7 linked regions of the Homo sapiens genome follow. The protein of the gene in region 1 interacts with the protein of each later gene in a pairwise test. Each region holds a gene or a part of one and is shown in the gene's direction. Other genes may lie near its edges.

Region 1 (3,500 bases):
AGGGTCTTGCTCTGTTTTCCAGGTCTCAGGCTGGTGTACAGTGGCACAATCAGGGTTCACTGTAGCTTCAACTTTCCGAGCTCAAGCGAACCTCCCACTCCAGCCTCCCCAAGTAGCTGGGACTACAGACACGTGCCACCACACCCAACTAATTTTTTTTTTAACTTTGGTAGAGTCAAGTCTCACTATGTTGCCCCAGGCTTGTTTTGAACTTGTGGCCTCAAGCCATCAGCCTGCCTCAGCCTCCCAAAGTATTGGAATCACAGGTGTGAGCCACTGTGCCTGGTCAGTAGTTGTATTTTTCAAGCCTCATATGATTTGACAAGGTAAAACGTTTAAAAACTATGCCAAGAAAATCTGGTACCTATTGTTTCTATGGTTGGAACTCACAGAAAGTTATCTGGGTCACCTCTATCTGAATAACCAAACAATCATGATATGAATCAGTTTTATTCACCCTCTTCTCAAATCCTATTTCCCTTGATGTTATTTGCAAATAGGAGAAAAAACAGTAAATACGCTATGAAAATATTAAGACTTGTACAAACATGACATTTTTGACAATCTAATAGACGTAACATCAATTCTGGCAAAAGTACAAGCCATGAATATTTGTTGCCTGACTTAAATAAAGACCCAGGTACTTTGTTTAGTGTTTTAATTTTAATGACAAAATGGTGTTTTTTGTATTATTTCTTGAGAGGTTTTTTTTTTCCCCATAGGTTTCTGTCTAGATTCTCCTGGGCCATTGGACAGTAAAGAAAAGTATGTATTCACTGCTTTCAAATGTTTATATGTAGAAAAAACGTGTCTAAACTTAAATACCTTATTTAAATGAAGTTCTTCATACACTGGACTGGAGCCCTGGATTTACCTGTGCCTAGAAACACTCTGGAATCTCAAGAATGAATAGTTTGTGTCAGCAATTTTCAGAACTTTTTCTCCTTTATTTTAGCTATAATTTTGGTGTTCTGTTTGGGTCTTACCCAAACCCTTACTCTGTGCTCTGACATCATAGCCTTACAAGAACATGTGGGGTTTTTTTGTTTGTTTGTTTGTTTGTTTCTGAGGCAGAGTCTCACTCTGCCGCCCAGGCTAGAGTGCAGTGGCTCACTGCAACCTCCACCTCCCAGGTTCAACTGATTCTCCTGCCTCAGCCTCCCGAGTAGCTGGGACTACAGGAGTGCACCACCACACCCGGTTAATTTTTGTATTTTTAGTAGACACGAGGTTTCATCGTGTTGGCCAGGCCAGGAGTTCGAGACTCCTGACCTCGTGATATACCCTCCTCGGCCTCCCATAGTGCCCATAGTGCTGGGATTACATGTGTGAGCCACCGCGCCCAGCCGAATGTGTGTATTTTAAGAAAAGACATGGGTTTGTTTTTTTTCACCTAGAAGTCTAGTGTTGGGGGTGCTCCTGAGAACAGGACAGCTTCAGAAATTTATTCTCCCATCTCTTGCCTAAAATGGGAGTCTGTGACTGTACCCCCAAGCTACAGGCTAAACACTATCTCTCTGCTAATATGAATACCTCTTTACTTGTTTTATTCTCATTATTTACCTTCTGATCTCATTACAGCCTTGAAAATCCTATGAGAAGAATACATTCCCTACCTGTAAGTTAGTTCCTTGTTTATTTTGAGCTAATACCTGTTATCTGTTCCTTAGCTACCAGCATGACCTTGATAGGAGACTTAATTTAGAGAGTAAAAACTGCTTTTCTTTAGTCTCTTTTGAGACAAGGTCTTGCTCTGTCACCCAGGCTGGAGTGCAGTGGCAAAATCTTGGCTCACTGCAACCTCTGCTTCCCTGGCTCAAGTGATCCTCCCACCTCAACTTCCAGAGGAGCTGGGACTATATATAGGTGCACACCATCACACCCGGCTGATTTTTGTATTTTTTGTAGACATGGGGGTCTCACTCTGTTGCCCAGGCTGGTTTCAAACTCCTGCCTCGGCCTCCCAAAGTGCTAGGATTATAGGCAAGAGCCACTATTCCCAGCCTTTCCTTAGTCTCATAAGTACTCAAGATGTTCGGTCTGGAGGAATTTGTCCTCCATCTCTAACAGAGCTTTATTAAACCAGGAAGGGTTCTTTTGATGCAAATGTTATTTGGGGATTGATTTGGCACTGTAATCCCTGTTGAGGGGGGCACTGTAGACCTTGTGAGGTTAGCTGTAAACCCATGGAATGGAAACTTCTATGCTGTGTCCTGGCTGTGTCCTGGCAAGGTGGATTCCTGGCCACATTTACTGGTTACCTACTGCAGTGTGTGAGGAGCTAGTCTACCCCCTATTCAACCCCCCTTTTTTTTCTTTTGAGAACTGAATTTTCCACTGAAATTTTATTTGTGTGCCTTAATTATTTTCCTTTTTTACTTTGATAGCAGAAGCTGTTGGGATGTAGTCCAGCTCTGAAGAGGAGCCATTCTGATTCTCTTGACCATGACATCTTTCAGCTCATCGACCCAGATGAGAACAAGGAAAATGTGAGTGTGACTTCAATGTACTAACCTGAGGCAGAGGTGAAACCCACAGGCTGTCAGTGGCTTAGAAGTGGCTGGGCTGCTTTCTGGGAGACTAAACTTGGCCATTATGTGCGGTCTTTGGAGTCAGAGAATTCTGGGTTTGGATCCTGCTTACTAGCTGTGTGATGTTGGCAAATTCTTCTCTTTTTAATCTTTGCTCTTTTGTAAAATAGGAGTAGTAATACCTTTTAGGGATGTTGTGGCAATAAGTAAGATTATGTATGAAGTATTGAAAATGGTGCCTGACAGGCGGGAGTTGCTCAGATTGTAGCTCACAGGAGTAATTACATGTACAAATAGTGTTTGTCTGGAAGGCTCTGCCCAGGCTGTCCTTGCCTCTTTGCTCTGACCCTGAAATGAATTGTAAGCTTAGGAAAAGGCTCTTTGGCAGTATTTGTAAGAACGGGGTCAACAAGTTCTAGGGAATCTCAGAGTAACTGAAATGGTGGCTTGGAAGGTGAATTTCTGGTTATCTACCCTGAATGAGCCTGGCTTTTTTGTTCTTTTAGACATTGCACAGAGTAGGCATCCAAAACAGTTGTAATTTTTTCAGCCTTCTCTCTACTGTATTTCTATATATTTACTTTCTCCCCTTTTCCATTCCTGCTGAAATGCCACAGTTCATAATCCTTGTCCTTACAATCTTCAGGTTTAGTGTGAAACCCACTGCCTCCATGAACTCTCCTGATGATTTCTTTATCAACCTGGGAAGTGTCATGAGAAAGAATATGGAAATGAGTTCCAGCCTTGAGTGCTTGGAACAGTGTATCAGCCTCTAGTGCTTTTTACCAGGGCAAAGCTGTACTGATGCCTGGTTTTCCCCCGAAATAGCTTCTCAGGGTTGCTTGCCTGGAGCTTTGTTTTAAAGGGAAAACAGCATAGATGGTGGTTAAAGAGCTCTCACTCTGGAGTTGTCCTGTTTTACTTCAATATTTTGGGCACATTCCTTAACCTGCAAGGTCTAGTTTTCTC
Region 2 (3,500 bases), on another chromosome or scaffold:
ATGTGGGAGCCTGCCTGGGATTTTGCAGTGAGCCGAGATTGCACCACTGCACTCCAGCCTGGGCGACAGAGTGAGACTCCGTCTCAAAAAGAAAAAAAAAAAAATCTGCCCGCCCCCACCTCCCAAAGTGCTGGGATTACAGGCGTGAGCCACCTCACCTGGCCGAATTCCGGATGTGTTTTAAAGGTGGAGCTGGTAGGAATTGCTGGTGGACTGGATGTGGGGTGTGAGATTCCCCAAGGACCTGGGCTTGGACGAACAGTTCATTTGGTGGTTTTGTTCAGTTTCCCCAGGAATTCTCGGAGCACCTGCTCTGTCTACACATTATGGGTGCCCGTGTGCTGGGAGGCTCTGGAAACGGGCAAGCACACAGCCTTGGGCTTCTGGGCTCCCCTGGGGAGGGATTTCTGAATTTGAAGGTGAAATTCTCAGAGGGACTTTGAGGTACCTCCTCTTTTGAGGTCAGGAGTTCGAGAGCAGCCTGGCCAACGTGGTGAAACCTCGTCTCTACTAAAAATACAGAAAATTAGCTGGGTGTGGTGCTGTGCACCTGTAGTCCCAGCTACTCCGGAGGCCGAGGCAGGAGAATCGCTTGAATGCTGGAGGTGGAGATTGCAGTGAGCTGAGATTGTGCCACTGCACTCCAGCCTGGGTGACACAGTGAGACTCCATTTCAAAAAAAAAAAAAAAAAAAAAAGAAAAGGTGAAGATAACAAACTTCAGTGTCCTTATTGATTAGTAAAATGAGATTTGGGAAGTGGGAGTTTGGGTAGAGCTTGTTCCCAGAGAAGCTAATGATGACTGTGTCTCAAGTACAAATTTCTGGTTCGAACTTGGCCACTGAATGGACAGTAATTAGGTTTGCTGGTGCCAGGTGGAGATTTGTGTGCTCTCAGGGGAGGATTTCAAGGGTTAACTTGTTGAGTTTTCCTTTGGCTGGGTCTCTGTAAATCTCTTTAATCTTTCCTTTCCCCAAATAAATCTCCTTAAATCCCCTTCAATCTCTCTCCTCCTGCTTCTCCTCCTCTCTCCTCTGGGAGGGCTTAGGCATGGGTCCAGCGGAGATTTGTCACATTACTGGTCAACTTGCCCACCGGGGATATGTTTTCTTTTTTTACTTTTTAAGTTTTTATTTTATTTTCTGAGACAGAGTCTTGCTCTGTCGCCCAGGCTGGAGCGCAGTGGTCCAGTCTCGGCTCACTGCAACCTCTGCCACCCGAGTTCAAGCGATTCTCCTGCCTCAGCCTCCTGAGTAGCTGGGATTACAGGTGTTTGCTTTTTTTTTTTGAGACGGAGTCTCACTCTGTCACCCAGCCTGGAGTGCAGTGGCGTGATCTTGGCTCACTGCAACCTCCGCCTCCCGGGTTCAAGTGATTCTCCTGCCTCAGCCTCCCGAGTAGGTAGGACTACAGGCGCGTACTACCACGCCCAGCTAATTTTTGTATTTTTGGTAGAGATTATGTTTCAACGTGTTGCCCAGGCTGGTCTAAAACTTCTGACGCCAAGTGATCTGCTCACCTCAGCCTCACAAAGTGGTGGGATTACAGGCATGAGCCACTGCACTCGGCCATTATGTTTCTTTAATTAATGAAGGAACTGCTTATAGGCAGCCACCATGAAGCTGGTGCCCGAGTCAGCGGACCCACGTTATTTTCCTGATGCAAGATGGTCAATTCCGTGCTTATTTAGTGCAGGAGGACACGTGGACTCCGGGAAAGATTCCAGCCTGATCTCGGTTCACGTTGGCTATGCCCCTTTGACTTTCTGTGGTGAGGGAGATTTCTTTTTCTCCGGGGTAGTTTTTTATTAGATCTCACTTGATTTTCTTTTCTTTTCTTTTTTTTTGGTTTATTATGCAGTGTATTGATTATTCAGGCTCCAGTTAGATCAAAGGTCACCTCCAAATACATGCCGTAGGTCAAGTTCATTCCGCCACAGACCAAGTTCATTTTATATCTTCAGCTATCTGTTCTCTGTGTCTTGTGCTGTTTTTCCAAATCTTTCAGCAGGACTTAGAAATGGAGAGATTCCAGCCTGGAGTGCTGGCTCACAACTGTAATCCCAGCACTTTGGGAGAATGAGGCAGAAGGATCACTTGAGGCTGGGAGGTTGAGGCTGCAGTGAGCTATGATGGTACCACTACACCCCAGCCTGGGTGACAGAGAGAGACCGTGTCCCCATAGAGAAAGAAAAGAAAAAAGAAATGAGGGACCCAGTACAGTGGCTCATGCCTGTAATCATAGCACTTTGGGAGGCTGAGGCGAGTGGATCACCTGAGGTCAGGAGTTCAACACCTGGCCAACATGGTAAAACCCCGTCTCTACTAAAAACACCAAAATTAGCCGGCATGGTGTTGCATGCCTGTAATCCCAGCTACTCGGGAGGCTGAGGCGTGAGAAACGCTTGAGCCTGGGAGGCGAAGGTTGCAGTGGGCCGAGATTGTGCCACTCCACTCCAGCTTGGGCGACAGAGTGAGACTCTGTCTCAAAAAATAAAAGAAAAAAGAAATGGGGGATTCTGTCTCCTGGTGAACACTGAACCTTGAGAGCAAGCCTTTGATAGGGTATATTTGCTGAGGCCGGGTAAAGGAGGCAACGTAACATAACAGAAAGATCGTTCTGGTGCAGGCATTCATAGCTGAATGCCTCTGGATAGATTCCTTAATCTCTCTGAGTTTAAGAGGGAGATAGGAGTTGCTGCCTTGTGGGATTGTTGTAAGGATTCAGTGACATATGTGAGGTACCTGGCACATAACTGGGATTGAATATACAGTAACTGTCATCAAGCTGTAGTTACCTCCAGCAGCTGAGGTTGGCTTCCCTTGGACATTTGGGGCAGGTTCCATTGGGGAAGAACACGTCAGTATCTGTTGGAAATTGATTTTTTGGAAGCTCTTGTTGCAAATAGGCAGGATGGTGCATATTTAACCTCCCCCAAAATTTATGGTTTCAGCAATCATAAACAATTCTTCAGTCAGCCAGAGAAGAACAATCCACAGTTGTTCTTCCTGGTACAGTGAGTAGCTAAGAACATAGGCTCGGAGGTTACACGGATATGGGTGGAAATCCTGGGTCCACAGCTTCCTAGCTGTATGGCTTTGGGCCAATTATTTTACCATTCTGAGCCTCATGTCCTCATCTGTAAAACAGGATGACACTTGGACCTAATGTGAGGCTTGTGGTGAAGATGAAATGAGGGTGCACGGGAACCACTGAGAGCCGTGTGTGGCACGTGGGTGTGTGTGCAGTCAATGCCCGCTCTCTATCATTTATCCCTGCCCCTCAGAGGCCATTTCCACAGATTTGGAAGGCCCGCTGAGCCATTCAACATTTGCTCCCAACAGGGGTGATTAGTTCATGTAATGCTAGCATTAAGCAAAAGACTCTGCCTGAAACGTCCTCTGGCCCAGCTCCGGTGCTGGAGTGACCTAGTTAGCTGTGTGTCCCAGGCTCAGCCCTCCCCCTGGGTAGCTTCTCGGTTTTTTTTTTTTTCTCTGCACC
Region 3 (3,500 bases), on another chromosome or scaffold:
ATCACTTTCTTCCTCATTTGACCTTCTTGCCTCCTTGTGATTTCATTTAGGTCCCACCCAGGTAATCTAGGATAATCTCCCCATCTCAAGATCCTGGATTTAATCATATTTGAGGTAACATTCCCAGGTTCTGGGAATTAGGATGTAGCTAGGATCTCTTGGGACAGGGGCATTGTTCAGCTTGCCACACTCAGCCCACGTTTTAAAAATTTATGGTCTAGGGGCCGGGCGCGGTGGCTCATGCCTGTAATCCCAGCACTTTGGGAGGCTGAGGCGGGCGGATCACAAGATCCGAAGATTGAGACCATCCTGGCTAACATGGTGAAACCCCGTCTCTACTAAAAATACAAAAAATTAGCCGGGCACGGTGGCAGCCTCCTGTCATCCCAGCTACTTGGGAGACTAAGGCAGGAGAATGGTGTGAAACTGGGAGGCGGAGCTTGCAGTGAGCCGAGATCGCACCACTGCACTCCAGCCTGGGCGACAGAGTGAGACTCCGTCTCAAAAAAAAAAAAAAGAAAGAAATTTATGGTCTAGGCCCTAGAGCAGGTTGCTTAGTTCTGAGGGCACTTTAGAACCACCTGCGGAGCTTTAAAAACAAACTACGCCTTGCCCAACTAATCAGAATCCCTGAGGCCTGGGCTTTGGTATTGAAAGCTAGAGAAGGGGAATGTCCTAGTATCCAGCAGCTGGTTCAGGAGGGTGGGTGGCTCCCACTGTTGCTCCACAGGCAAAGGAGAGCTCTAACAAAGTATGCATTAGGGAGAGTCCTCCTCTAAAAATATCTGGCCATTTCAGCAGGTGAAGTGTGTCTTTAAGAGGGTGTCTGCCCTTTAGACTGATATCTGTACTTCTCAAGGGGCATTTGCTCAAATAAAAACCATGGATGTTTTGAGCGCTTGCATCATCCAAGCTTCTCTGACTAAAATATAGAGTCACTGTATTAGTTCGCTAGGCCTGCTATAACAAAGCACTACAGAATGGGTAGCTTATGCAACAGAAGCATTATCTCCTCACAGCGCTGGAGGTTAGAAGTCCAAGATCAAGGTGAGATCAAGGTGGATTTCTTGTAAGGTCAGTCTGCTTGGCTTGTACATGGCAATGTTCTCCATTTGTCTTCACAGGGTCTTCCCTCTGTATGTGGTTATATCCCAATCTCTTGTAAGGACAACAGTTTTCTTAGTCTGTTTTCTGTTGCTATAACAGAATACCTGAGACAGGGTAATTTATAAAGAGAAGAGGTTTATTTAAAAGAAATGAAAGGGAGACGAGGGAGATAGGAAAAGGAAACAAAAAAGAGACAAACTTTGCTTCATAACAACCCACTCTCACTGGAACTAATCCAACCCAATGAGAGCAAGAACACCCTCCCCTGGGACTGCATGAATCCCTTAATTGGGGTGGATTATTACCATGGCTCATGACTCAAACTCCTCTTAAAGGTACTACCTCCCAGCATCACTATATTTGGGGACCAAGCCTCAACATGAGTTTTGAAGATGACCACATTCAAACCATAACATGAGGTATACTGCATTAGGGCCCATCCCAGTGACCTCATTTGATCTGAATTACCTCTTTAAAAACGGCAAATACAGTCACATTCTGAGGTACTGAGAGTTGGAACTTCAACCTATGAACTTAGGGGAGATACAATTCCATCCATAACCATTACCTACAAGGGTGGCCTACAGAGGGGGTGTCTTGTCAGAGATGGAGACCCCAGCTATCCCTGTGGACCCTATTGCAGGTTTTTAACAGTCCTCACAGCCTGAGACAGTTGGTTGCTCCCTCTCATACAGCTAGGCTTCCAGGATTTTGCAAGGCCCTGACAGGCCTCAAAGCCATGTCAGCCTAATAATGAGGGCCTCCGTCTGCTGTGCTTGCCAAAATTGTTATGGCAACCAGAGCTAAAGGACTGCAGTGCTCAGATCGGGCTGTGCCAGCTCCAGCTCTGGCTCGCTTACCTTATCGTGAGCTTGAGGCACTCAGAGGCAGCCCATCTCCCTGGCATGAGCTAGTCTCAACCGCTTGGGGTGATGGTATTTTGAAAATGCCATTATAGAGTGCTGGGTTCCTTACGGCAGTGTGCCCAGGCCTCAAAGTGATGGTGAATGGTTTCTGGGACAAAGAAGGGTTGGTAAAATCTCCTGTAGCCAGGTACTAGAAGAAATAGACAGAGTAGGGGTTACTATGCACCCTTTCCACATTGCTAGAAGTAACTGTTCTGACCAGGTGAACTGGTATTTGGATAAATGCTTTCACAGTCTCAGAGAAGTCAGACCCTTGGATTGATTTGCTCTTGAACAAAAAAATTTTTTTTTTCACTGTGAAAATGCTTTCTTTGGGGTGTCTTTAGAACATGTGATGTCAAGACACAACAGCAAGCGCACATACACTAAGACATGGCTGTCATAGAACAGATTGTGCGTGAATAAAGGGTTCACACCACTTCCACCCTTTACACAGTAACAGAAGGCTCTAGGCCACCTACCTCCTCCTTGGCTCACTCAAACTCTTCCTCCTCAGCCGTGGCCTCCTGCTACTGCTGGTACTCAGACACCAGGTCGTTCATGTTGCTTTCAGCCTCGGTGAATTCCATCTCATCCATGCCCTCGCCCGTGTACCAGTACAGGAAAGCTTTGCACCGAAGTATACCTGTGAACTGCTCTGAGATGCCCTTGATCAGATCCTAGATAGCAGTGTTGTTGCCAGTGAAGGTGGCCGGACATCTTTAGCCCTGAGGGTGGGAAGTCACACACAGCTGTTTTTATATCTTGGGGGATCCAACCAACAAAGTAGCTGCTGTTCATATTTTGGGCATTAAGCATGTGCATGTCCACCTCCTTCATGGACATGTGGCCCCTGAACATGGCAGCTACCATTACGTAGCAACCATGGCAGAGGTTGCAGGCAGCCATCATATTCTTGGCATCAAAGAACTGCCAAGTGGGCTCACGCACCATGAGGGCCCAGTACTGCTGGTTGTCCCAGCTGGTCAGCAGGGGGAAGCCATACATGAAGTGCAGGTGGGGGAACAGGACCATGTTTGCGGCCAGCTTCTGCAAGTCAGCATTGAGTTGGCCAGGGAAATGCAGACAGATGGTGACCCCACTCATGGCTGCAGACACCAGGTGGTTCAAGTCACTGTAGGTAGGTGTGGGCAGCTTTAGGGTTCTGAGGCAGATGTCATAGAGAGCTTTATTTATTATCATTGCAGAAGGTCTAGTTTTGAGAAGTTTGGTTTGATGGTCAGTCCGTGGAAAAGTGTGGCATGAGCCACTAGCTTTTAAAATCTGTCAAGGACCTTGATTGACTCCCTATTTCAGAACTCTATCTTGTGTAATAAAGAAGTCCTGGCTGGGCAGAAATTCCATCTCAGGTCTTGAACACATTTCCTACACAGTCTAGAATTAACTGGACTGAGGACTGACGCTTCCTGCCCAGGAGGCCTGGCAAGGTCTTGTCATTGTTTCCTGAGGGTGGATGAGGTCATTAAG
Region 4 (3,500 bases), on another chromosome or scaffold:
TTCTGACTTTGGACTTGGAAACTGCTTCCTCCTGGGCTCAAAGACTTTTGAAAAGGGTGTATGGGGCTGTGCTAGGGGGCATCCTGTCCCCAGCCCTGCCTCTCACCCCCCAACCCCTAGGCACTGGAATAGCAGGGCCACAGGTACTCAGGAGGGCTTGGCATGTGGGGCCGTGAAAGGAGAGGCATGGAACCAACACCATCCACATTTCCTTACCTCTGTTCCCACATGGCCAGTGCTGGCCCCACTGATCTGCACCAGACTGTCCTTAGTGTCTCTGCTCCCCACCCCACCCAACCTGCCCCATCCCTGGCATAGCTGAGCCCCGATCCTTAGCATCTGGGGAGACAGAGGTGAGGAACATGTCCCCCTGGGAGCTGTAGGTCCAGGGAGACCCTGTGGGTGAGGATGCTCTCCCAGAGGCCAGCATGGCACAGAGGCTTCCTGCAGGAGGGGGCACTCGGCCAGCCCTTCGCAGTACAGAGAAGGCCTCTGAGGGGGCGGGGAGCCGGCGAGCTGCAGGGAGCATGCTGGGCACAGCAGGTACCTGGAGTGGGAAGGAAGGTTAGGACCAGGTAGGGCAGAGGAGCGGAGGGGCTGAGGACTGGGCTCTGCACTGCCGGGCACCTGCTGGGGTGGGTAGGAGAGAGCAGGGAGGGGCGCGTGCCCACTCTGCAGAGGAGCCTGCTCCATGGTGGTGGCTGCCGCAGGAGCAGCGGTTGCCTGGCACCTCTGCTGTTGCCATGGTGACGATGGAGGTGCTAACTTGCTAATGAATCCCCTTCGGCTGCAAATAACAATACTATTGTGGGTGATAGGCCCAGCTCCAGCTCAGCGTTGCTTAGGAGGCAGAGCAGGGCCAGGTAAAGGCCAGGACCCGTCCTCCCGCCCCTCCAGCCCCTGCCCACCACCCTGCAGCTGGACTTGCCCTCCTCCCTCCCCTCCCTCTGGGTCTCAGATCTGGCTGGCTGCACCGAGGTCTCTCATGGCAGTGTCAGGACTCAGGGCTGCATGAAGGCTAGGCCCTGGCTGCAGAGAGGGCGAGGGCCTCTCCTCACACCTGCCCTCCTCCCTGCACTGGGGGGTATTTGCTTCTGTTGTTTTCAGTGAGAGAGAATCCACCCCCACTTAACGGATGAGGACATTGAGGCCGGGGCAGCTCCTCAAAAGACCCCCAGCCCAAGTGTCCCTGCCACTGCAGCCTTCTCGGGGTTCTGGGTCTCTGAGCTGGACCCTTGGGTATCCTACGGGGCACCTGGAGCCGCTGTCTCACCAGAACCACACATCTGGGCCCTCGCCTCTCACCACCTGTGCAAGGCTCAGGTAGAACTCGGGAAGGACAAACAGCTCATCAAGGACCCCCTGTGGGTAGTCAGGGACCCCCTTGGCAGGCAGAGACCCTCCACAGCAGGCAGGCAGCAGGCCCTTTTGCTGTTGAACTTGCTGGGTCTGGCCCTGGAGAGGACTCCCAGGCCTCGTTCCCCACCCTGTGGTGGAGGCTGGAGCACCAGCCCAGGAACGTTATCTGAGTGGGATCCTGAGGCCCTGCTGACCAGGTGCCACTGCAATCCCTGGTGTCAGCCGTGGGGTCAGCTGAGGCTGCCCATCCACAGTCAGGTGTTTCCCTGGCCTCTGGCAACAGGAGGGATGGTGGGAATGCACAGAAGCCTGGGCCCAGTCGAGGCGGGAGGGGCCAGGCAGGGGCCAAGCTTGAAGTGTCTGGAGAAGGAGAGTGAGTGCGAGGCTGGGGCTCCTGGGCAGGGAGGAGCTGGGACCTGCCCCTCAGTGTGGAGTTGGGGCTGGGCCAGGGACGAGGTCCACACCAGCCTTGCACCTGCTGCTCTGTGAACTCTCTCACTGGCCCCCGCCGGCCTGGGAGCTGACCTGGAGAGTCCAGAAACGGTGGTGGCCTCTGTCCCCAGCCTGCTGTTTGCAGTGCATGGGTGTCCTCAGGGCGCCTCCCCCCAGTGCCTCCTGTGGCTGTGGGTTGGGGGTCTGGCTTGCTGAGGGCCCGCTACCCACCGTAGCCCGCTTTGCACAGGGCGCAGGGCCCAGGGTACATCTATCTCCCAGCCTTCCCTCAGTCCTGAGCTGGGTGGAGTAAACTTCCTGACTGCCTGGCAGCTGTGGGGGCACAGGGAAGATGGCATTGCAGGGACACCCAGTGCCCATCTGTGTGTGACCCAGGTGTGACCCAGGTCCCAACCCTGCCCCAAGCCTCGGTTTCCCCATAGTTAAAGCAAACTCATCATCCTTAACACTATGCGCCTCCTAGGGGCTGTGAGTGTAAAGTGGACCCAGAGGAAGGCCAGTCCTGGCAGGTGACAGGGAGATGGGGCCCGGCAGTGGGGCAGTGACAGGCTTGTCATCAAGCCTGCAGGAGGGGCTTCCGGAGACTCCATCCTCAGACATCCCTACTCCACCTGCCCACCCGGCAGTCTGAGGCCTTTGCAGGCCATGCCGAGGGCCTGGCACCTGCGGGGTCCCCGACACTGACCCTCCTCCCAGGGCTGCCCCGCCCCTCCCATCCTGGGCCCTATCAGCCCATGAAGGAGCCTCCTAGACCCCAGGCTCCGCTAGGGGAGAGGCACTGTGTGGGTGCAACACGCCCCTGCAGGAGCTGGGCACTCACCCCCAGCAGGCACGTGGCGCACACTAAACCTCAGCCTGCAGGTCAGGAGGGCAGCAGTGGCAAAGGAGCCGTGCCTCTGTGCCTGAGCCCCTCCCGCACCCGCCTGCTATCCGGCTGCCCCCGGGAGCCCACTCTCCAGTGGAGGCAGCCCCAAGGCCACCATCCACCAGGGGCTGGATTATCGGCTTACGGAGCTGCCCTGGAGTCAAGTCTCCAGGGATTGGACTCCCTGGGGCTGTGCTAGGGAGAGAGGGGCAGGTGTGAGGACAGCAAGCCCGGAGGAGGGCAGAGAGCTTGACCATGTGGGAGGGTGAGGTGCAGTCCAGACCCCGACTTGCTGGGGGTCCTGTGGTGGAAAAGATGCAGAAGTCACAGCAGGGAGATGCCTGTGTCCCAGGGATGAGATGGAATGTTCTGGAATGCCTAAGGGTCCGTGAACCCCAGGGCCCACAGGAAGGACCCCTGGCCTCTTCCAGCCCTCAGACCCTTCTCTGTGGGGCCCATTTGCCCCCCTCTGCCTTGTTGCATCCTGCTGAGAGCTGGCCTTGTGACCTGGACGGGGTCTCTCCAGAGGGAGAAGGGTTCCCACGGGCACATGTTGGTGTGTCCTGGTGGGCGCAGCTCCCAGCTCTGATCTGTCCTGGGGAGCTTCTGGGTGCCACCCAGGGGCCCGCAGCACTGCTGACCATCCCCCTGTCCCTGCAGGTCCAGCACCATGTGCTAGGTCACTCCCAGCGCGAGGCCACACCTGGGCCGTCGGAGCAGCCCCTCCTCACTTCAGGGGTCACCCTCCCCAGCACCCATTGCCCCACCATGGCTGGGGACCGGCTCCCGAGGAAGGTGATGGATGCCAAGAAGCTGGCCAGCC
Region 5 (3,500 bases), on another chromosome or scaffold:
GCTAGATCAGGGGAAGAGGGACATCTTTTTCTGATTAGATATACAGTAGTTTAGTTGGAGTAAAATGTGCAAATTCACTACAGACCCCACGGAGATGACAATGTTGCCCAGCGCAAACTCTTCACTTTCAGTGTATTGCCAGATTTAGAAAGGAAAGGAATAATCGTTGGACCTTATTTTTTCCCCTATTTTGAGCATCAAATACTTTTGATTGAAACTTCCTCTTTTGTCATCAGGAGGAAAACCCAATTGTCCTTCTCTGCTTTTTATTATTATTATTATTATTATTATTATTATTATTATTATTATACTTTAAGTTTTAGGGTACATGTCCACCATGTGCAGGTTAGTTACATATGTATACATGTGCCATGCTGGTGTGCTGTACCCATTAACTCGTCATTTAGCGTTAGGTATATCTCCTAATGCTATCCCTCCTTCTCTGCTTTTTTATTCTAAAACGACAACCTTTTGAAAGCAGCAGGGAATGAATAAACTCCCTGTACATCAGTCCAGAGTAAGCAGCCAGCCACCCCCAAATCAAGTAGATATTTTTTCTCTCTTTTTTTTTTTTTATTGTTGTTTATCCAAAATATTTTCCTGCCATTCTCATCAAGTATGTTTCAGGGGTTAGTTAACACCTCAGCTGCATACAATGGTTATAGTACCTGCAAAGCCATTGAAATCAAAACCAAACTTGTCAGTTGGTTAAGCTAATTCAAGGTTACTATTTTGAAAATGAAAACTGGATTTACCACCAAATGGAAACACTGCCCTGTACTGTCATAAAATATAGTAGTCAGTCAGCCATTTGACCCGGTTAGTACTTAGCCTATCTTTATTCTTAGTTTTGAAAAGACTTGGAATTATTATATGGCCATATTTTAAAGTGTAATTTAGGATTCAGTGATACTCTCAAAGAAATTATACTATCAAGAGTTAAACTATTTTATAATTCCCGTTCATGCCAGATTTGGAAGCCAACTTATCTGAGAATTTACACATCTTTTATTATCCCATTTCTTTACATACACGCATCTTTTTTTCCTCTTTTTTTTTTTTTTTAAGCCAGACCAGCTTTCTTTAAGTTAGTCTAACTCCTCTTTCCACCGAAAGACCTCAACTATTATATTCTTCCTCAATAGGATGCTCTTCTCTTTGTGAGCCCCACGGGAGTCATTTCTACAGCAAAGCCTTCCTGACCTGCAGAGGATTGATCTTGCCTCATCATATTCTCTTACCTTCCTGTACTTTCTACAACTATAAGGAAAATAATAAATTTTGTAATTAGATATTTAATGTATATTCCCTGACTGAATATAAGCTGCAAAGAGACAGGAACTATAACTTTCTGTATTCACTCACTACTATATATTTATTAAGGAATGAATGCAACATTATGTACATAGTAGGAAATATACAAACAAACAGCTCTCGCATTCCAAGGCAGATTACTTCTAAGCATAAACATTTTCTTTCCTTTGAGAGGCCAAAGCCTTTTGGCGTATAGATCATTTAAACTTAGGGAAGAATCTTTGGCAATTCCCCTTCTAATTGAAAATGCTTGGCCAGGAGTGGTGGCTCACACCTGTAATCCCGGCACTTTGGGAGGCCGAACCGGGCAGATCACGAGATCAGGAGATTGACACCATCCTGGCTAACACGGTGAAACCCCATCTCCACTAAAAATACAAAAAAAAAAGCTAGCCGGGCGTGGTGGCGGGCGCCTGTAGTCCCAGCTACTCGGGAGGCTGAGGCAGGAGAATGGCGTGAATCCGGGAGGTGGAGCTTGCAGTGAGCCGAGATCACACCACTGCATTCCAGCCTGGGCGAAAGAGCAAGACTCTGTCTCAAAAAAAAAAAAAAAAAAAGAAAATGCTGGTTTCGTTTTCGAATTTTGGGATAAAGCTAGCTAATAAATTTTATATTAGATCAACCATCCTTGATCCATTTATCAGTGTATTCCTATTTGTGAGTTATTTATGGTAAGCTCACTTTCCACTCCCTGATCTGAAGTTCAAAAAACTGGTATAAATGCTTGGAAGAAACTCAATGAAAACGGTTGTTCTAGTTCAATAGGATCATAACCATATCTGTGTTTATATAGGCCCTGAGAATAACATAATGGTATTCAAGTATCTTCAGAGAATAATGCTGGGCCAACAAGGAGTTTGAGATTGTCCCTACAAATGATATGGCTTGACCAACCAACCTAATGTTGGATGATGCTATTTAAACAGAAGTTTACGAAAGGAATAGAAAAAGAAACTCTATTATTTGCACTGTAACCTGAGTTTATACTGTAAATAGAATAAATTCACATTGGCTTTCTAGATTTGGAAAAATCTATATTTATACCTATGCAATACAATATCTCTTCCAATGGTAACATTTCTAAGGGAAGAGATATTGCCTCTTTCACTGTATGCTTTAATAAATGTAACAGCCCATATTGAGGAACTCTTTACATGTGTAAGGAAGAACTATTCAACAGTGAGCTATTTGCATTTAAGATAGGGAGTTACGGGTGAGTAATGAACTCATTCGAAAGATTCTAAGATCTTACTTAGATGACATTTGAAGGCAGGTATAAGGCCATTTGGTAGGGATATCCTAGTTCCAGTTTATCGGTCTTTGTGCATTCGCGTTGAGTTGAGATGACTATTTGCAGATAAACACACTTCATCTGCAAATAGATTTTTAAATCACTATTAAAAAAAAAAAAACGCTATTACTACTGAGGGCTGCCAGCACGCTGTCACCTCTCAATCCGAACATCAGAAGGAACAAACTCCGGACACACCGCCTTTGAGAACTGTAACACTCACCGCGAGGGTCCGCAGCTTCATTCTTGAAGTCAGTGAGATCAAGAACCCACCAATTCCGGACACATTACCACTTCTATTACACATAGCCATACTGACAGAATCCAAGTTTTAAACCATATCTAAAATGTGAATTAGCATAAACTATTTTTATTTAAGCTTCAAACTTGTCTTTTTTAATCCCAGCTAAATTCACACCAAAATTAATAGTGAAAAGAAAGGGGGAAAACAATTTGGGTTATTATTACTAAAGCAGACTGTATCATGGGAAGTGACGTCTTTGTATGTTATTGAAATTGATTTATTAAGAGAAAATCGTAATACGCATTTACAGTAATTGTGACCTCTGCTATATTTTGTATAGTAGGTGGCCATATGTAGGAAAGGGCATACATTATAGCACAATTTAAGTTATATCAAATCTGAGTTTGAGTCACAGATCTGTACTTCAGTAATTATGACCCTGGCTAAGTTAGTCCATCTATTTGAATCTCAATTTTCTCATCTATGAAAATAGATAGAAATGCTGTCTCTTTTATAAGATTGAGGTGAAAGGTAGGAAAAAGACATCAGTATGTCAAGGTTTCAGCACAGTGTCTGGCACATAGTAGTTACCCACTCCATGTTTATTAATATTATAATTTTAATTATAATTAAATGTTTAATCAAAGGAAT
Region 6 (3,500 bases), on another chromosome or scaffold:
GGAGTTTGAGACCAGCCTGACCAACTTGGTGAAACCCCATCTCTACTAAAAATACAAAATTAGCTGGGCATGGTGGTGGATGCCTGTAATCCCAGCTACTCAGGAGGCTGAGGCAGGAGAATCACTTGAACCCAGGAGGCGGAGGTTGCAGTGAGCCAAGATGACGCCACTGCACTCCAGCTGGGGCAACAATAGCGAAACTCCGTCTCAAAAAAAAAAAAAAAACTGAACAACTACACAGCTGTAGTTGGTAAACAGTCATTTTTATGACTGAGAGTTAGGCATGCTGAAGATAAAGAACTAGAAAACTTTCTAGTAGAGAGTGTTGTTTGCTCTCATCTGGTTCTGAAGGTTATATGTCAAACAATAATTGGATGCCAAGAATATTAAGGCATAGATAGAGTAGATCTCATCTCAGAAAATGGTTGGTGTAGCTCAATTTCAAGCCTTTGTGATATATGATATCTCTGGAACCTGAGGAGCTCACGACAGCATAGAAAATCAACTGAAGCATAAAACATGCTCACATCTGAATTGGTCTCTTTTGACTTCATTTTGGAATTTGTGACACCAAAGGGAAAAGCAACATGTCGTCACAGGTTTTACAGGCAGTAGCTGCAATAAGGGAACAAAATCACTAAGGTTGCACAGAATAGAAAAGTCTATTAATTTATGCATTCATTTGGTCTTCCGTTTTTCAAATATATTAATACAACCTGCCACAGAATCCTTTTGCCCTTATTTAAAAGTAAGGGCAGCCAGGCACAGTGGCTCACGCTTGTAATCCCAGCACTTTGGGAGGCAAAGGCGGCGGATCACCTGAGGTTGGGAGTTCAAGACCAGCCTGACCAATATGGAGGAAACCCATCTCTACTAAAAATACAAAATTAGCCGGGTGTGGTGGTGCATGTCTAATCCCAGCTACTCGGGAGGCTGAGGCAGGAGAATTGCTTGAACCCGGGAAGCAGAGGTTGCGGTGAGCCGAGATGGCGCCATTGCGCTCCAGCCTGGGCAACGAGTGAAACTCCGTCTCAAAAGAAAAAAAAAATAGAAATAAAAAAATAAAGTAAGGGCAATGGCCTTTTTACTGTTTGGATTATAACAAATTATTGCCTTTTGTTTGCACAGTTGAGGCTTTCAGTGAGCTTAAATGAAAAATTCCGTCTTTTGGCTGTGTAAGTTTTTGCCTGCATATGCAAAGGCTTCATAAAATAATCTCTGTGACTAAAATTTCATTTCATCTGTTCTCAATCATCCCTTAACCCAGCGCTATATTACCTTATGCCTCCAATTCAGTGGTAGCCCTCTACGGAATAGAATTCCACTCCAACCCCTCATTCATGATGCACTAAATGAGAATGTAAGAATGATGCTACTGTGTGAAGTAGGAGACACTTTCTCAAACCGTATCCCTTTTTTTGATGTATGTCAACCAGATATCTATGTTTTCAAACAATAGTGTTTTTAAGCTGTAAATGAACCGTAGTACTGCTTTTGTAGAACTAAAATTGTATAATTGTTACATCATCTTAATTTTGCAGCTAACAGAACAAGAAGTAGAAACAATATTGGATAAAGCAATGGTCCTTTTTAGGTTTATGCAAGAAAAAGATGTATTTGAACGTTATTATAAACAACACTTGGCAAGGAGACTTCTCACAAATAAAAGTGTTTCTGATGACTCTGAAAAAAACATGATATCTAAGTTAAAGGTAAGGTGTGTTTTAGATGAAATAGAGTGCACCTAACTGAGGTTTATTATGATTGTGTACTGACAACGTGATTGGAAATTAATTTGGTAGATTATTAAGTGTTTATTTCTAGAAATAAAGGTAGATTGTTTTGGAGAAGAACACAGACTACACTAACATTTGTTCAAGTTCAGGGACATTCAGAGTTTGCTGGAATTTCTGTTGGTGTGTCAGGATACATTCATGGAGGCCTGGAAGGGAGGATTAGTAAAAGGGAAACAATAAAGAGGCTATGCTGTGTAGTTCTTTTTCACAAAGTGTGGTCCATAGAATACTTGCACGTGAATCACCTGAGATGCTAGTTAAAAACAGTTCTGGGCCCTGCCTTTCATGGGGGTATATTGGAATCTCTGAAAGAATCTGGGAATTTGCATTTTAAAATCCTAAAGTTTGATAACCACAGGCACAGAGCAACTGTTGGAAAAATTTACAGGAAGATTATCAGGGATAGCAATAACATGAAATAATTTATTTCTTTCTGTACTTTCTCATAGAAACATCTACCATTTATTTGTGTATATTTGTGTTTTTCCTCCACAGACTGAATGTGGATGTCAGTTCACGTCAAAACTGGAAGGAATGTTTAGGGATATGAGCATCTCAAACACAACGATGGATGAATTCAGGCAACATCTACAGGCAACTGGTGTAAGATTCTGCGTTAATTTCTACTTAGATATTCATGTAAAGTCTTTTGTAATGGGTATATTTTCATCCACTTAGCAGATGACAGTTGTTTCTTTAAATGTCATTAGTGACAACATGTGTTTTATCTGTGAGTACTTAATTTTCCTTCACATTGCCTCTTATTCTGTGTTTATGTTAAAACTTTTTATTCTTTTAAAATTTAGTTGTTTCTTCCCACTTGAAGGAATACACTGACAATTTAATAAAGAGAATTATTCTGTTGTTAATAAAGATAATACAAATCTATTATAAATTGTGGAAAGAGTACTGGGCTTAACACAAGTTTACTGAGTTTCAGTACTCTTCTTTTCACTTTACCCCAAGATTGTGTCATCTTGGGATAGTCACCTGACCTTCCTATACCTCACTACTATTATTCTCCTCTGTAAGTTTAGCTTAAATGGGACTTACATCCTAAGGGTGCGTAGCAGGTGAAGTGAGACTATAAAAACACAGAAATTAATGTATTATAAATGTGTTTGGTATAACTCCCCAAAGGTGGTGAGCTGGAACTTCTTTAGCTTTGGAGTCTGATGGGAGTTTTATGAGCATTTAATGAAATTCAGAATTTAGTTTCATTTTTTACTCTGATTTTCAACTTAACCTTAAGTTTAGAGAATTGTACAGTTTTTAAATTTTTAAAATCACCGTGTACCACTCTATGGTTAAAATGTGTCACAACCATTTAACAGATTTGTGAGTCTTTTCCTTTGGTATCTAAATATGAGATCATCACTTCTACTGGCCTTATAGTCTCGCAAACCAGATACGTGAAAATACGTAATTCTGTAGAATAACCATTCATTTCTATGAAAACATTCTGACTCTAATGTAAATAGTTGTATGATTTGCTTTATAAATATCAGTGTTTACAGTGGAGAAGAGCTGAGAGGAGGAAAGATGCAAGTCCATGACAGAAATTTCGGGTGGACAGGAAATAGTGGTGTAATTATCCTGGATTTTTATTTTTAGATTGTTTAGGAATTTATAGTTAAATCTAATATATTGATATATTTTCTTGTATTTTTTTGTTTGCTCTAGTAAGTTTTTAAATTTTTTTCT
Region 7 (3,500 bases), on another chromosome or scaffold:
TAGATGCCATTTGTTGAATTATTTATAATCTCTAACAATGTCACCTTTCAATCAGTGTATGATGTACATGTAGGATGACTGAAATACCAACTTTGTCAGAAGTAACTGATAAAAGCAGAGGTTTTTCCTAAATTTTGTACTCTATGCTCTAGTATATGAAATCCAATGGGCTTTATGGTACAGGAGGTTAGATAGAATATTTAAAATTCTTTGAATGGGCAATGATTCAAAGAGCCACCATAAAAGCCTTTCTGAAAATATTCTACAATGCCATTTCTATAGATAAATATCTTTGGAAAATTATAGGATTTTTTTTTAAAGTAAAGCCATAGTATTCTGTTTCATGTTTATAACACCATATCGACAAATAGCATGTATTTGTCAGGCTTCCATAGCCCACCTTTAAGAAAACCTGATAATGTAAAACTTTGAACTTAATAAGCAAGACATTAAGGGCTTGGGGTGGGCACAGCGGCTCATGCCTGTAATCCCAGCACTTTAGGAGGCCAAGGCGGGAGCTTTGCATGAGGCCAGGAGTTCAAGACCAGCCTTGAAAACATAGCAAGACCTAGTCTCTACAAAAACTAAAAAACATTAGCCAGCGTGGTGGTGTATACTGGTGCGTGCTTGTAGTCCTAGCTACTCAGGAGGCTGAGGCTGGAGGATCACTTGTGCCCAGGAGTTTGAGGCTCTTGTGAGCCATGATTGTACCACTGTGCTCCAGTCTGGGTGACAGAGCAAGACCCTGTCTCAAAAAAAGGACTATAATACTAACATTTTAAAGGGAATCTTTATGAAAAATACCTATACTCTTAAACAACAAACTATCCTATAGCCTTTATTACAGTGTTATTTGACTTTTTCAGTTTAATTTCTTAAAATTTTCAAGCAGTATTTACTGAGATAACTAAAACAGCTATATAACTTCTTTTGCATGCCTGTTCATGCAAAAATGAAAAAGGCAATGATGATAGTCTTTCTGACCTGTTCCTCCATATCTTGTGTCTCTTTTGTTATAGCAAATATACTTTAAAAAATAAGATTTTACATAGTATTACCTCTTACAACTGGCTTCACTTGTTATTCTGGCAACAGAATTTTCTATAACAATGATTTTGTACAAAAATGCTTTTTAACTGCTCTGTGCATAATAGTCAGCCTCAATCTTATTTACTTCTGTGTGCATATGATAGATGAAAAGGTACTGAGTAAATATTTATTGAATGAATGAATGAATGGACCTCTCAAATTACCCATATAATAAATTTTTTTAAAGGAGAGAAAAATAATGTATGTATGATTCCTCTTACCTGATATAATTACCTACTTCCTCTTACCTGATGTAATTAGGGCACTTTAATTTGTGAATAAAGAAACATTATGGTTATTTTGGTTTCCTGTCCAGGCCTCAGAAAGAAAATATGACTTATAGAGTTGGACACATTGCATCTAACTTATCAAGAGCTAAAAAGGCCTTTCATTTCTTTAGAATTGGAATAAATTTTCTTTTGAGTGGAGTAGGATGAGATAGAATTTAAAGATGACAAGCAAAATGATCTCAGTTTCTTTAGTTTTAAAATAGGTTCTTTGGGGGTAAATCCCAGTTTTTTGGTGTTCTTCCTGTCCCTTTCTCCTGGCAGAAATGTCCTTTAGATGTCAGGAAAGGTTCATGTGTTCTTATGGCAGGGAGGGGAGAGAGCCCCAGATCTGTGTGTGGTCTTTGTGCAGTCATCTGAATTCTCACTGACTGCCATGGAGATATATCTAGTCCAAACTAGTTACTGGGTTTCTTTATCTGCTGTTCCAGTCTATCATTAACTAAACCAGTATTCTTTCAGAGCTGTCAGAGCTTATAGCTCTCCCTTTCTCATTTGTTTTCTTCTCATTTTTCAACAGCATTTCAGGTCCTCATGTCTCAACCACATCTACTCTGTGAACCCTGGCTTAGTCTGTCTGCTCTGCAGCATCTGCTGTGGGGATCATCTCACAGTGACCAGAATGGCTTCTCACTCTTAACTCTATAAACAACCACCTTTCACATATCCTGCTGGGATCATGAAGGAATACCTGGACACAAGAGCCACTGCACAACAGCCAAGGAACTTTGAGACCTGCCATTACAGAACCTTTCTTGGCCTACTCACACTACGCTGCCATTTTATTCTGTTTGTAGTAGTCCTCTGTTGGGTGTGGTTATCCTGCAAGTTTTTCTCCTTTTAGAATGATGAACAGGAAGCAGGGCAAACTCTTGAAGATTTCCAGCTTTCAGTTTTTGTTTTTGTTTTTTAACCATTATTTACCTGAGTTTTCATCCTTGAGGAGGTGAAGTAGTCAGGACCATGAAGTCAGACCTCATGCCCTCTTCCTCCTCTTTCCTGGAAGAAGTATTCAGTTTCCTTTTCCTTTCTCTGGTAACTCCTCCTTTATACTATTCCCCCCTCCCTTTTTTTTGAGGAGGAGGGCATCACCTTCCCAGTGGGAAAAGGTGTTAAGTTAGGAGCTTCTACTGTACAATCAGAACTTGGAGATTTTAAGAAAAGGACAAACGGTAATTAAATTGGAATCTCTAATGTGCTTGTTTGTGTTAGTTTTTTTGTGATTATGTCACTTGGCATTTATTGAGTACCTGCAGTGTTCACACACAATGCTGGAGCCTTCATTAGTTACATATTTAACCCTCTCAGCAACCCTGTAAAGTAGGTAGTATTATCCCTGTTTTACAGATGAGGAAACTGAAGCTCAGAGAAGTGAATTAAATATCCTGGATCTGAACCCAATTCTGTTTGAATTCAAAGCCAAAGTTCCTTCTACTTTTCTGTTCCTACTCTTTGCATTTTATTTATAAATGTGTTAAAATTTTAGCAAAAATGGAGAATCTGCTGTTTAAAAATGTGTTTGCTTAATACATGGCTACTGTATGTCAATTGTAAATATTTATATAACCTACAATTATAATCTATTTTTATTATTTTTCTCTAGTAAAAATAAGTGAAGACAAAGTACCTTGACCTCTGCAGTAAAAGTTACCAGATAAATCCAGAGTTATCATTACTTAATGTTGTTTTTATGTTCACTGAATGTGAATTACCAAAGTATATAACATTTTTCATGTTTAAACTTTTATGAAAACTGGTGTGTATGGATTTAAGTCAAAGCCTGGACTTTATCTGGTGACAAGAGGTAAGTCTTTTCTGTGTAATCGTAATTAGCCCTGCTAAGCAGTTCTTACAGATCTACCCTAGTGCACTCTAAGAATGTCTGCCTAATGGTAAATGATTGCCTGAGGCAGATATAAAAGTTTTTCCCTACATGAAAGGATTTGCCATTTCTTGTGCCAATACAGTATGATAAAATCTATCTTTCCATCTTTTCCTTTTTTCTTTTTAATATTCTATCTCAACGCTAAATTATTTTATTCTTTCCTCTCAACCATGTGTTTATCTCTTTATTTTTAAATATTACAGCTTTCTAACATCTGTCTCTAGGGCAGCATAATCTTA

Evidence for each region.
Region 2: the proteins of CDC25A (region 1) and CAMK1D interact in a two-hybrid assay, tested with the Homo sapiens proteins (one large-scale study listed by BioGRID and IntAct).
Region 3: the proteins of CDC25A (region 1) and MTAP interact in a two-hybrid assay, tested with the Homo sapiens proteins (one large-scale study listed by BioGRID and IntAct).
Region 4: the proteins of CDC25A (region 1) and DUSP8 interact in a two-hybrid assay, tested with the Homo sapiens proteins (one large-scale study listed by BioGRID and IntAct).
Region 5: the proteins of CDC25A (region 1) and SOX5 interact in a two-hybrid assay, tested with the Homo sapiens proteins (one large-scale study listed by BioGRID and IntAct).
Region 6: the proteins of CDC25A (region 1) and CUL3 interact in a two-hybrid assay, tested with the Homo sapiens proteins (one large-scale study listed by BioGRID and IntAct).
Region 7: the proteins of CDC25A (region 1) and NAA11 interact in binary tests that used the Homo sapiens proteins (3 or more experiments, as listed by UniProt).

Annotation. Positions count from the first base shown.
Region 1 is NC_000003.12:48,181,918-48,185,417, reverse strand, and holds part of CDC25A (M-phase inducer phosphatase 1), read left to right. Parts: intron 1-722; coding exon 723-765; intron 766-1,581; coding exon 1,582-1,618; intron 1,619-2,387; coding exon 2,388-2,489; intron 2,490-3,500. UniProt on the Homo sapiens protein: Tyrosine protein phosphatase which functions as a dosage-dependent inducer of mitotic progression. Directly dephosphorylates CDK1 and stimulates its kinase activity. Also dephosphorylates CDK2 in complex with cyclin-E, in vitro.
Region 2 is NC_000010.11:12,356,047-12,359,546, forward strand, and holds part of CAMK1D (calcium/calmodulin-dependent protein kinase type 1D), read left to right. Parts: intron 1-3,500. UniProt on the Homo sapiens protein: Calcium/calmodulin-dependent protein kinase that operates in the calcium-triggered CaMKK-CaMK1 signaling cascade and, upon calcium influx, activates CREB-dependent gene transcription, regulates calcium-mediated granulocyte function and respiratory burst and promotes basal dendritic growth of hippocampal neurons.
Region 3 is NC_000009.12:21,809,136-21,812,635, forward strand, and holds part of MTAP (S-methyl-5'-thioadenosine phosphorylase), read left to right. Parts: intron 1-2,353; exon of another isoform or gene 2,354-3,227; intron 3,228-3,500. UniProt on the Homo sapiens protein: Catalyzes the reversible phosphorylation of S-methyl-5'-thioadenosine (MTA) to adenine and 5-methylthioribose-1-phosphate. Involved in the breakdown of MTA, a major by-product of polyamine biosynthesis.
Region 4 is NC_000011.10:1,565,772-1,569,271, reverse strand, and holds part of DUSP8 (dual specificity protein phosphatase 8), read left to right. Parts: exon of another isoform or gene 1-1,323; intron 1,324-3,337; 5' UTR 3,338-3,445; coding exon 3,446-3,500. UniProt on the Homo sapiens protein: Has phosphatase activity with synthetic phosphatase substrates and negatively regulates mitogen-activated protein kinase activity, presumably by catalysing their dephosphorylation.
Region 5 is NC_000012.12:23,537,171-23,540,670, reverse strand, and holds part of SOX5 (transcription factor SOX-5), read left to right. Parts: intron 1-3,500.
Region 6 is NC_000002.12:224,501,864-224,505,363, reverse strand, and holds part of CUL3 (cullin-3), read left to right. Parts: intron 1-1,541; coding exon 1,542-1,712; intron 1,713-2,291; coding exon 2,292-2,399; intron 2,400-3,500. UniProt on the Homo sapiens protein: Core component of multiple cullin-RING-based BCR (BTB-CUL3-RBX1) E3 ubiquitin-protein ligase complexes which mediate the ubiquitination and subsequent proteasomal degradation of target proteins.
Region 7 is NC_000004.12:79,316,188-79,319,687, reverse strand, and holds the end of NAA11 (N-alpha-acetyltransferase 11), read left to right. Parts: intron 1-1,896; 3' UTR 1,897-3,041; downstream 3,042-3,500.